Homo sapiens: one gene and its partner. The protein of the gene in region 2 purifies or fractionates together with the protein of the main gene of each other region. This does not show direct contact. Each region holds a gene or a part of one and is shown on either strand. Other genes may lie near its edges.

Region 1 (2,951 bases), about 12 Mb from region 2:
AAAAGAGGAAGTCAAATTGTCTCTGTTTGCAGATGACATGATTGTATATTTAGAAAACCCCACTGTCTTAGCCCAAAATCTTCTTAAGCTGATAAGCAACTTCAGCAGTCTCAGGACAAAAAATCAATGTGCAAAAATCACAAGCATTCCTATACACCAATAACAAACAGAGAGCCAAATCAGCAGTGAACTTTCATTCACAATTGGTACAAATAGAATAAAATACCTAAGAATACAACTTACAAGGGATTTGAAGGACCTCTTCAAGGAGAACTACAAACCACTGCGCAAGGAAAAAAATAGGACACAAATAAATGGAAAAACATTCCATGCTCATGGATAGAAAGAATCAATATCATGAAAATGTCCATATTGCCCATAGTAATTTATAGATTCAATGCTATCCCCATCAAGCTACCAATGACTTTCTTCACAGAATTGGAAAAATCTACTTTAAACTTCATATGGAACCAAAAAAGAGCCCGCATAACCAAGACAATCCTAAGCAAAAAGAACAAAGCTGGAGGTTTCATGCTACCTGACTTCAAACTATACTGAAAACACATTTTTAATGAAAATTATGTTATTGGGTTATAAGACAGGATACATAAAAATAAAATATTTCAGTAAAATTTAATCTTTTATTCAAAATTAGAAATTTTACTTATTAGAAAGTACATTTTTAGTGATTGTCCAAACCGCTAGCCACTATTTATTATTTAAAATCTTTAGTATTAAGGAAAATACTTAGTTATGCACTGAATCTCCAAATAGATAAAAAGAATAATCAACTACTGTTTATATCAATTAAAAGAAATTAAAATTCTTATGCAATTAAAAAATTATCTCTCATATTAAGGAAATATAGTACATGCATAATTAATGTTAGCTCCCTTTCCCCATTTCATAAAGAATCATATACCCCCCTCTCACTCTTCCTAAGAAAGCATATGAAAGTTCTAGATATAAAAATCTTAAAGTTTTATTTCCCCTAACATTATTTGATCATAAAGTTCCCTGGTCAGTAGAACATAAGACTTTTTCAAGTTATCCATGAAGTAAAGTGGTTCAGAAATTTTCAGTGGATTAAATCCATCTTCCACCAACTGATGCTTCAATAGTTTGAATGTTCCTGTTGCTTCCATTTTTTCCTGTAAAGCAATTACCAGGATGAGTAGAATCATTTAATAACTATAATATATACATATATAGTTAATACTATAGACTGTAATATTAAATTATGACACTTTATATCTAGTGATCTCTGTATTTTCTAATAATTTAACACTAGAAATAAAAAATGTATTTTAGAATATTAAAATCTTTAGTTTGATTTACCTGTAAACTTTACTTAAATATAAACTCATTCAATATATAAGAATTATGAACATAATAAACTGATTATAATTATGTCTAAAATACATAGGTTATCTCTTCAATTCAATGCCAATATAACATTATGTATAGAGAATGCCATAAGATGCTAAGGAGATAAAAGCCACAAAAGACAGCAATTTCTACTACAGGTACACACAAATCTATCATAAAAAGCAGAATACTATAAGAGCCAGACGGGGTGCAGAATGTTCTAAAACATGGCTTAAATATACCCAGAGGGGTTACTTGAATGGTCTAAAACTTGAGGTACCTCAGTGAATTTCCAAGGTCCTCACAGGATATCTTGTTTTCAAGAGAAACTCAGTGACATCTGTTAGTCACCAGTCACAAACTACTAGCTCAAGGTTCACAGTTTCAATAGTAATTTGTAATACATTCAATGATGTCATTATCTTTGCAAAATTGGGTTTTTGGTAGTTGCTGGGATAAAAAGCAAGTACAGCCAAAAATCATCATGGAACATGAAATCAGGCTCTCCCTGTCCAGTCCAATCTAATTCCAAGGTCTGAAGAACTGTGGCCCAACTTACATCTCCTTAGTGACTGATTGTGGTTATTTGAAAATGAAATGAAAGCATTTACTTATTTATATGGATTATTTTTCAGGTGGCTACTCATTTGTTAGACCTAAATACTTACCAATCTGTTTTTCCTTAACTAGTGAATAAACAAATGTTTAGGTATTTGTTTTGACCCAAGAGTGCTATGAGACATTAAAGATGCCATGAGTCTAGAAAGTTTAAGAATCTCTGTTTCAAGGTGTTTAAAGGAGATAAGAGTGTATCCCTTTGTGGGAATTTCAGGCATGGATAAACAGTCTGTTTAAGTGAGATGACATGTAGAGACCCTACAACATTCTATGAGTAGCTTGGCCATTTTTATTTATCCTTTTGGACTATTTGAGTCAACTTCACTTTGAACCCCCTTCCCTGATCTCCCTTCCCTCCTCCATCTCCCCTGATCCAACACTGTCATCACAGCCAGATATGGCTGTGCAAGCAAACATATCCTTTTACTCTTTTCTTAAAAATTAGCAGCTCACTGTATTTATACAATTTAGTGTTCTGCCATTTTTAAGCTTAATATTATACAAAGTATATTTTCCTGGGTCCTGTAATTTTCTTCAAAATTGAACTTAGAAAATTGTTTTATAAGGTCTCATTTAATTATCATATTTTAATTAACTTTGCCCTTATTCATGAACTTTTAGAGAATATCAAAATTTTTAACACTAGAAATAAAAAATGTGTTTTAGAATATTAAAATCTTTATACATCTTTGATTACTTCCTAAGATGCATTTTGACTAAGTCAAAATATATGCAAACTGTTAAGAGTCTGATCATATATTACCAAATTGTTTTCTAGAGAGGTTATAACAATTTATGGTTCCATGAGCAGAATGAAAGGACCAAGTTCGTTTTATCCCAGCCACACTGAATATTATATTTTTGTGAATTATTGGCAAAAAGGCTTCTTCCATTTTTTAATTTGTGCTAAATAGATTTGTAATACAATACTTGTTTGACTCATTTTGTCAGAAGTAACTTTTACT
Region 2 (7,762 bases):
TATGAGAACAACCAAAAATGACAAAGTAGAAGCACATATGAAAAGGCTAAGAAAGCATGAAAGCCAGCAAGAAATAACTGCCGCTCTTCTGGTCAGCCTGGAAAGCAACTGGCATTTTCCCTAGAACAATGTTTTCAAACTTGGTTGCACATTAAAATCACCTAGAGACCTTTTAAAAATTCTGAAACCCAGGCCACACCCCGACAAATGAAAGCACAGTCTCTGGGGGTGGGACATAGGCATCATTTTTTGAAGGTCCCCACTTGATCCTAATGTGCAGACAAATTTGAAAACCACAGCTTTGGGAGGCTGAGGTGGGTGGATCATAAGATCAGGAGTTTGAGACCAGCCTGGCCAATATGGTGAAACCCCGTCTCTACTAAAAATGCAAACATTAGCTGGGCATGGTGGCGCATACCTGTAGTCCCAGCTACTCTAGAGGCTGAGGCGGAAGCATCAGTGAGGGAGAATCAGTGAACCCAGGATGTGGAAGTTTCAGTGAGCCCAGATCACACCACTGCACTCCAGCCTGGGCGACAGAGCGAGACTCCACCTCAAAAACAAAAAGAAAGAAAGAAAAAAGAAAAGCAGTACTCTGGAACCTACCAATCCATCATTTAGCATATTTGTGAAGTAAAGTGTTATTCTGGTATTTGCAGAACCAGAATCCAGCTTTATTGGGCCAGGCCCAATTTTTTTAAAAAACATGGTAAGGTCTCCCAGCCTTAAAGTATTACATAGCATAGCTCTAAAAGATCACTGTAGGAAGACATAAAATGGTATTTCAGTCATCTAAGGGAAAAACCTTCCTAAAGCACTAGCCCCTGGACAACTATTATTTAAACATCTACAGCTGTTCAATAGATATTGGGTTCTTTTTGGAGGGATGTGACAAAATTCTTGTATAATTAGATTGTGATGATGATTGTATCAGTTTAGTACATGTAAATACACTGAAAACCATTGGATTATACACTTTAAATATGTGATTTGCATGGTATGTGAATTATGTCTCAGTAAAAATCTAGAGATGGGGCTGGGCTCAGTGGCTCACGCCTGTAATCCCAGTACTTAGGGAGGCTGAGGCCAGCGGATCACCTGAGGCCAGGAGTTCAAGACCGGCCTGGCCAACATGGTGAAACTTCATCTCTACTAATAATACAAAAATCAGGCCGGGCCTGGTGGCTCACGCCTGTAATCCCAGCACTTTGGGAGGCGGAGGCGGGCGGATCACGAGGTCAGGAGTCCAAGACCAGCCTGGCCAACATGGTGAAACCCCGTCTCTACTAAAAATACAAAAATTCACCAGGCGTGGTGGCTGAGGCAGGAGAATCGCTTGATGGTGGAGGTTGCAGTGAGCCGAGATCGCGCCACTGCACTCCAGCCTGGGTGAAAGAGCGAAACTCCATCTCAAAAAAAAAAAAAAAAAAAAAATCAGCCAGATGTGGTGGCAGGTGCCTGTAGTCACAGCTACTTGGGAGGTTGAAGCAGGAGAATCGCTTTATCTCAGGAAGCAGAGGTTGCAGTGAGCCAAGATCATGCTGTTGCATTCCAGCCTGGGCAACAAGAACAAAACTCACTCCATCTCAAAAAAAAAAAAAAAATATCTAGAGATGGGAGAATCATATGGCTGGCATAAAAAGGTCAAGTCAAAGATATGTAAGATTAAGGCTTTACGATGCTCCAGTTCTAGTAAAACAGACCAGGTACTTGTTTTGGTGTGAAATTGCCAATATAAGTATAGTACTGTACATATTAGTTGTTTAGCTTAGGTAAGTCTTTTAATCTCTTTAAACTCCAGTTTCCTCATCTATAAAATAAAGAGAATATCTACTTTGCAAACTTGTTGTGAGAGTGAAAAGTAATGCATATAAAGTCCCTGTATGGAGCAAGTACTCAATAACTATTTGTTGAACTAAAAATGATAATACTGATATTCACCATTTATTAGCATCCCTATGTGCCAGACACTGTAAACAATTAAAAGTTATCATTCTGGTACCCAGAGTACAGTATGAGACAGACATGCAAAAAAAAAAAAAAAAAAAGATAATGGAGATCTGCATAGCATAAGATGCAGTGGGACCAAACGGGAAAAAACACCTAAATGAGCCTGGAGAAAGGAAGAAATGATAGAGGTGGTGATGCTTGAGCTATGATCTAAAGGTTGAGTAGTAGCTTGTCAGACAGTAAAGGGGAAAGGACAGGGCAGGGAGGGGCCATTGCAAGAAATTCCATGCAGAGGGATTATGGTATTTCATTATCACTGAACCTTAAACTGTGTGTGTGGCCGGGTACGGTGGCTCATGCCTGTAATCCTAGCACTTTGGGAGGCCAAGGTGGGCAGATCACTTGAGGTCAGGAGTTTGAAACCAGCCTGGCCAACATGGTGAAACCTCATCTCTATTAAAAATACAAAAAATTAGCCAGGTGTGGTTGTGGGTGCCTGTAATTCCAGCTACTTGAGCAGCTACTTGAGAGGTCGAGGCAGGAGAATTGCTTGAACCCGGGAGGCAGAGGTTGCAATGAGCTGGTGTCAGGCCACTGCACTCCAGCATGGGCAACAGAGAGAGACTCCATCTCAAAAAAAAAGTGTGCGTGTAAAACAGACAGTCTTTGTAGGAGATGAGGTGAAGCAAGTAGGCAGGAGTTAGATCCTGAGTTACCTTTGGGCCAAGCCAAGGAGTTTTTATTTTATTCCATATAGATGACAGTCACTGCAGAAATTTGAACTGATATGCATATATCATGAGGTTTTTTTGTTTTAGAAATATTATTCTGTCAGTCATAAGTGAAGGGACTGGGGACATTGGGACTGGAGGCAAAGAGATCTTATCTCTTTGCAATAGTTTGAAAGCTATTGCAATATTTGAAGAGAAGATTGATAAATGCTTGAACCAGCACAGTGGCAGTACAGATGGAGGGAGCTGACTACAATAAAATCATCAGGACTTGTTGATTGACATGATATAGGAAGTGAGGGACAGGGATGAGTCAAGGCTGATCCCCCTAGATCCTGACTAAGGAAGCTGGGTGGTTGACAGTGCCATTCACAGAGACAGTGAATTCTGGCATAAACACCTAATAGGTCAGGCTGGTTTACACCTCCATCATTCCCATGGGAGAAGGTATAGAGGGGTGTGTGTTTGTGTGTGTGTGTGTGTGTGTAAAAGAACACAGAAAGCCAGATTCCTCTTTTTGACACCAGAATATTGGTTCCCACCATAGTCAAAAGGATATTCCTGAGGATCGAGGCTTGGAAAAATATTGGGGAAGGATAAGAACTCCAGTTGTTGCTGCTTTTTTTGGCAGCCAGTGTAACCTAGGTAAGGACTTGGTTGAATTAAGAAATTTCATGTCCAGATCAGGATGGATTTTTCTATTTCTCTGAGCTCTGGTGTGTTTCCCACTCAGATTGCAGGTCGTAGGTACCTACGGTGTGAATTGTGTTGTGTTTCTGTGCTTGTGCAAGGGAGTAGCTAGGTTGCTGGGAGGTCTGGATGAGGGTGGGGGTGGGGTGAGATCAAGTCTCCAGCTCCAAGAGGTCCCCTGGGGCTAAGTGAAAAGCTTGCTCTTTTGAAATGGTCTTCGTTGGTAATTAACAAAAGATCAAGAATACCTTGGTGTCAGATAAAGGGAATTTGTAGGCACAATGCTGTTGGTAGCTGATCTCAATCATTCAAGGAAGCTATTAAATCTATGAACATTAGCATTCTGCCAGGTAAAGAGATCTGGTCCTTAGCACCTCCCAGACACACTGATTCTTTACTGTTTTGAAACATCTCCCTCTCCTGGCTTCCTCCACCCCGCTTCCATACTGTCCTTGAAATCAATGAATGGTAATTTAGTGTATCTAGTGTATCACTAGCAAATGTCTGAATAAGAAAGGTTTGGTTTCCGCTGTGTCTCCTGTTACAATGAGAACATGTACTGCATAAATTTAATTGGCTACGTTAATGTGTAAGCCTTTTCTGCAAAGAGATGGATCCGTTTCTGAATATTCTGCAGAAGGGCAGAGTTTTGAGTATATGGCAGTGGTTCTAATTAGCAGTTGCTCCAATACAATCAGACTGAGACGGAAGCTACTCATTTAGAATACTGGTTGATGACAACACTGGCTTGAACAAAGTGACCACTCTCCAATGGCTACTCTCCCTCTCAGTGGGCCGCAGGTTGCTAGGGCTCAGGCTGTGGCTGTTTTCCCCGCCGAAAAGGGGCGGGGTCAGTCGGTGTGTTAGGAAAAAAAATGTATATATATATATATGTTGTCTGCCTCCCCACAGAGATAACAACCCGTGGAAAAACATGCCGTTGAGCGGGAGGAAGGCGAAAAGATAGGCTGGGTTTTTTGGGGGGTGGGGGAGCGTGGAGGATAGGGTGGGCTTTTTCCCCTCCAATGCTGCGACGCATTAACCCTGCTGCTGTTGGGACGTTCTCTGCTCAGCCTATTGGCTGAGCCCGGGAGCCGCTGTCTGCCAATCGGGTGGTGAAAGGCAGACAAATCTACCCCGCCACCAGCAAAAACGGCGCGTAACCCTTGCGGCGCCGGCCGAACCGCGCCAGAGCTGGCGCGGGGAAAGGGAGATAGGTGTCTCCAGCTGCTGTGGCTGTTTGGGGCGGGTCGGCTTCATCCGCGTCTCAGGAGCAAGTAGAGAATTAGCGGGCGGCAGCAATGCTCCGCAAGGTGAGAAGCTGGACAGAAATCTGGCGGTGGGCTACCCTTTTGTTCCTCTTTTACCACCTGGGTTACGTTTGTGGGCAGATCCGCTACCCGGTCCCAGAGGAGTCACAGGAAGGGACTTTTGTAGGGAATGTCGCTCAAGATTTCCTGCTGGATACGGACAGTCTGTCAGCTCGCAGGCTGCAGGTCGCTGGAGAGGTGAACCAAAGACACTTCCGTGTGGATTTGGACAGCGGAGCCCTGCTCATCAAGAACCCAATCGACCGAGAGGCACTGTGTGGGCTCAGTGCCAGCTGCATCGTGCCCCTGGAGTTTGTCACCGAAGGTCCTTTGGAAATGTACCGAGCAGAGGTAGAGATCGTAGATGTGAATGATCACGCCCCCCGTTTTCCGCGGCAGCAGCTGGACTTGGAAATTGGGGAGGCAGCTCCTCCAGGACAGCGTTTCCCGTTGGAAAAGGCTCAGGATGCAGATGTGGGGAGCAATTCGATTAGCAGCTATAGGCTGAGCTCCAATGAACACTTTGCACTGGATGTGAAGAAGCGCAGCGACGGCAGCCTGGTCCCAGAGCTGCTCCTGGAGAAGCCTTTGGATCGAGAGAAGCAATCGGACTACCGCCTGGTGCTGACTGCTGTCGATGGAGGGAACCCGCCGAGATCTGGCACCGCAGAGCTCCGGGTATCCGTGCTGGACGTAAACGACAACGCCCCAGCCTTCCAGCAATCCAGCTACAGGATTAGTGTGTTGGAGAGCGCACCAGCGGGCATGGTGCTCATCCAGCTCAATGCCTCAGACCCGGACCTGGGTCCCAGTGGTAACGTCACCTTTTATTTCAGTGGTCATACCCCTGATCGTGTAAGAAACCTCTTTAGCCTGCACCCCACTACTGGAAAGCTTACTCTTTTGGGGCCCCTAGACTTTGAGAGTGAGAATTACTATGAATTTGATGTGCGGGCTCGCGATGGGGGTTCTCCAGCCATGGAGCAACATTGCAGCCTTCGAGTGGATCTGCTGGACGTAAATGACAATGCCCCTTACATCACAGTGACCTCAGAGCTTGGAACCCTCCCCGAGAGTGCAGAACCTGGCACTGTGGTGGCACTTATCAGTGTGCAGGATCCAGACTCAGGGTCAAACGGAGATGTGAGCCTCCGCATTCCTGACCACTTGCCATTTGCCCTCAAGTCTGCCTTCAGGAACCAGTTCTCCCTGGTGACTGCTGGACCCTTGGATCGAGAGGCCAAATCTAGCTATGACATCATGGTCACTGCTTCTGATGCTGGGAACCCTCCTCTCAGTACCCACAGAACTATTTTCCTCAATATTTCAGATGTGAATGATAATCCACCCTCTTTCTTTCAGAGGTCACATGAGGTGTTTGTTCCTGAGAACAATCGCCCAGGGGACCTGCTTTGCTCCCTTGCAGCCTCTGACCCAGACTCTGGCTTGAATGCGCTTATCTCCTACTCACTCCTGGAGCCCAGGAATCGAGATGTATCAGCTTCCTCTTTCATCTCTCTGAACCCCCAGACAGGAGCTGTTCATGCTACTCGATCCTTTGACTATGAGCAAACCCAGACACTGCAGTTTGAGGTGCAGGCCCGGGATCGGGGCAACCCACCCCTTAGCAGCACTGTAACAGTTCGTCTATTTGTGCTGGACCTCAATGACAATGCTCCAGCTGTGCTCCGTCCTCGGGCCCGGCCTGGTTCCTTATGTCCCCAAGCACTGCCTCCATCAGTTGGTGCTGGCCACCTAATCACAAAGGTGACTGCTGTGGACTTGGATTCAGGTTACAATGCTTGGGTTTCCTATCAGCTCCTGGAGGCCCCAGATCCCAGCCTGTTTGCAGTCTCTCGATATGCTGGGGAGGTGCGGACGGCTGTTCCTATCCCAGCTGACCTCCCACCACAGAAGCTGGTCATTGTGGTAAAGGATAGTGGTAGTCCACCACTCTCTACCTCTGTTACTCTCTTAGTGTCCTTAGAGGAAGACACTCATCCAGTTGTCCCAGATCTTCGAGAATCTTCAGCTCCAAGGGAAGGAGAATCTCGTCTAACCCTCTACTTGGCTGTGTCCCTAGTGGCAATTTGCTTTGTCTCCTTTGGCTCATTCGTGGCACTACTCTCTAAGTGTCTTCGTGGGGCAGCCTGTGGAGTCACATGCTTTCCTGCTGGCACCTGTGCCTGTCTCACCAGATCTCGAAGGAGGGAGGGGCTTCCCCCTTCCAATGGGATCCTCCGAATCCAGCTAGGGTCAGATGACCCTATCAAGTTTGTTGATGTGGGAGGCCACTCTCATGGCTGTACACCCTTGGCTTCTGCACCCACTCGGAGTGATAGCTTCATGATGGTGAAGTCACCCAGTGCACCTATGGCAGGGGAGCCTGTTCGCCCAAGCTGCCCACCCTCTGATCTTCTCTATGGGCTAGAGGTGAGACCTTTGCAGGCTCAACAAATGCTTGAGGGTTATTCTGATCCAGGCATATGGCTAGGCCATGTCCTAGAGAGTACTGGCCTCTCAGTAAGTGCCCATAGTGATGTCACCATTTTTGTAAGAGGTAACTATGTGGTAGACGCTGTGCTTTGTAACTGTTTCGTGAATTAACCAGAGTTGTCACAGTTTAGCATTGGGGGCGGGTCATGCCTATATCTGAGTAAGAAATGAAAGTAATTGGTGATCAAGAGCCAGGCTGTTGTGGAAGCATGATGATGGAATGTGGGAGCACAGGAGGCTACAGTGCACAGGGTACAGTGCACCAGGCAGTCACTTGGACAAAGGTGGCTGTTTTCTCTACTCTTCCTGAAAGAGGGGATCAGATTCTGAAGTACCTTAACTCTAGGTTACCATTTCCCAAGGGATTGAGGGGAAATAAAATCTTTGTCTCCCAGTATCTAGTACACTGTGAAGGGACCTCTCTATTTGAAACATAGAGACAGCAGAAAGAGGAGAGAACTAAAGGAATAGAGAGGCACGCATCAGAGTGGTGGCATAGATCTTTTGGTCTGGGTCTTAGGACTCATATCAAGTCCCTACTGGGGATTTGAACTAGATGCGGTAAATTGGAAGGTTGGGGCGGGT

What was found.
Region 1: the proteins of PCDHGC4 (region 2) and SLC27A6 purify together in Homo sapiens (co-immunoprecipitation; 2 studies listed by BioGRID and IntAct, with this or other methods). This does not show direct contact.

Annotation. Positions count from the first base shown.
Region 1 is NC_000005.10:129,031,306-129,034,256, reverse strand, and holds the end of SLC27A6 (long-chain fatty acid transport protein 6), read right to left. Parts: intron 1,152-2,951; coding exon 975-1,151; 3' UTR 622-974; downstream 1-621. UniProt on the Homo sapiens protein: Mediates the import of long-chain fatty acids (LCFA) into the cell by facilitating their transport at the plasma membrane.
Region 2 is NC_000005.10:141,480,502-141,488,263, forward strand, and holds the start of PCDHGC4 (protocadherin gamma-C4 isoform 1 precursor), read left to right. Parts: upstream 1-4,528; 5' UTR 4,529-4,672; coding exon 4,673-7,114; coding exon of another isoform or gene 7,115-7,288; intron 7,289-7,762. UniProt on the Homo sapiens protein: Potential calcium-dependent cell-adhesion protein. May be involved in the establishment and maintenance of specific neuronal connections in the brain.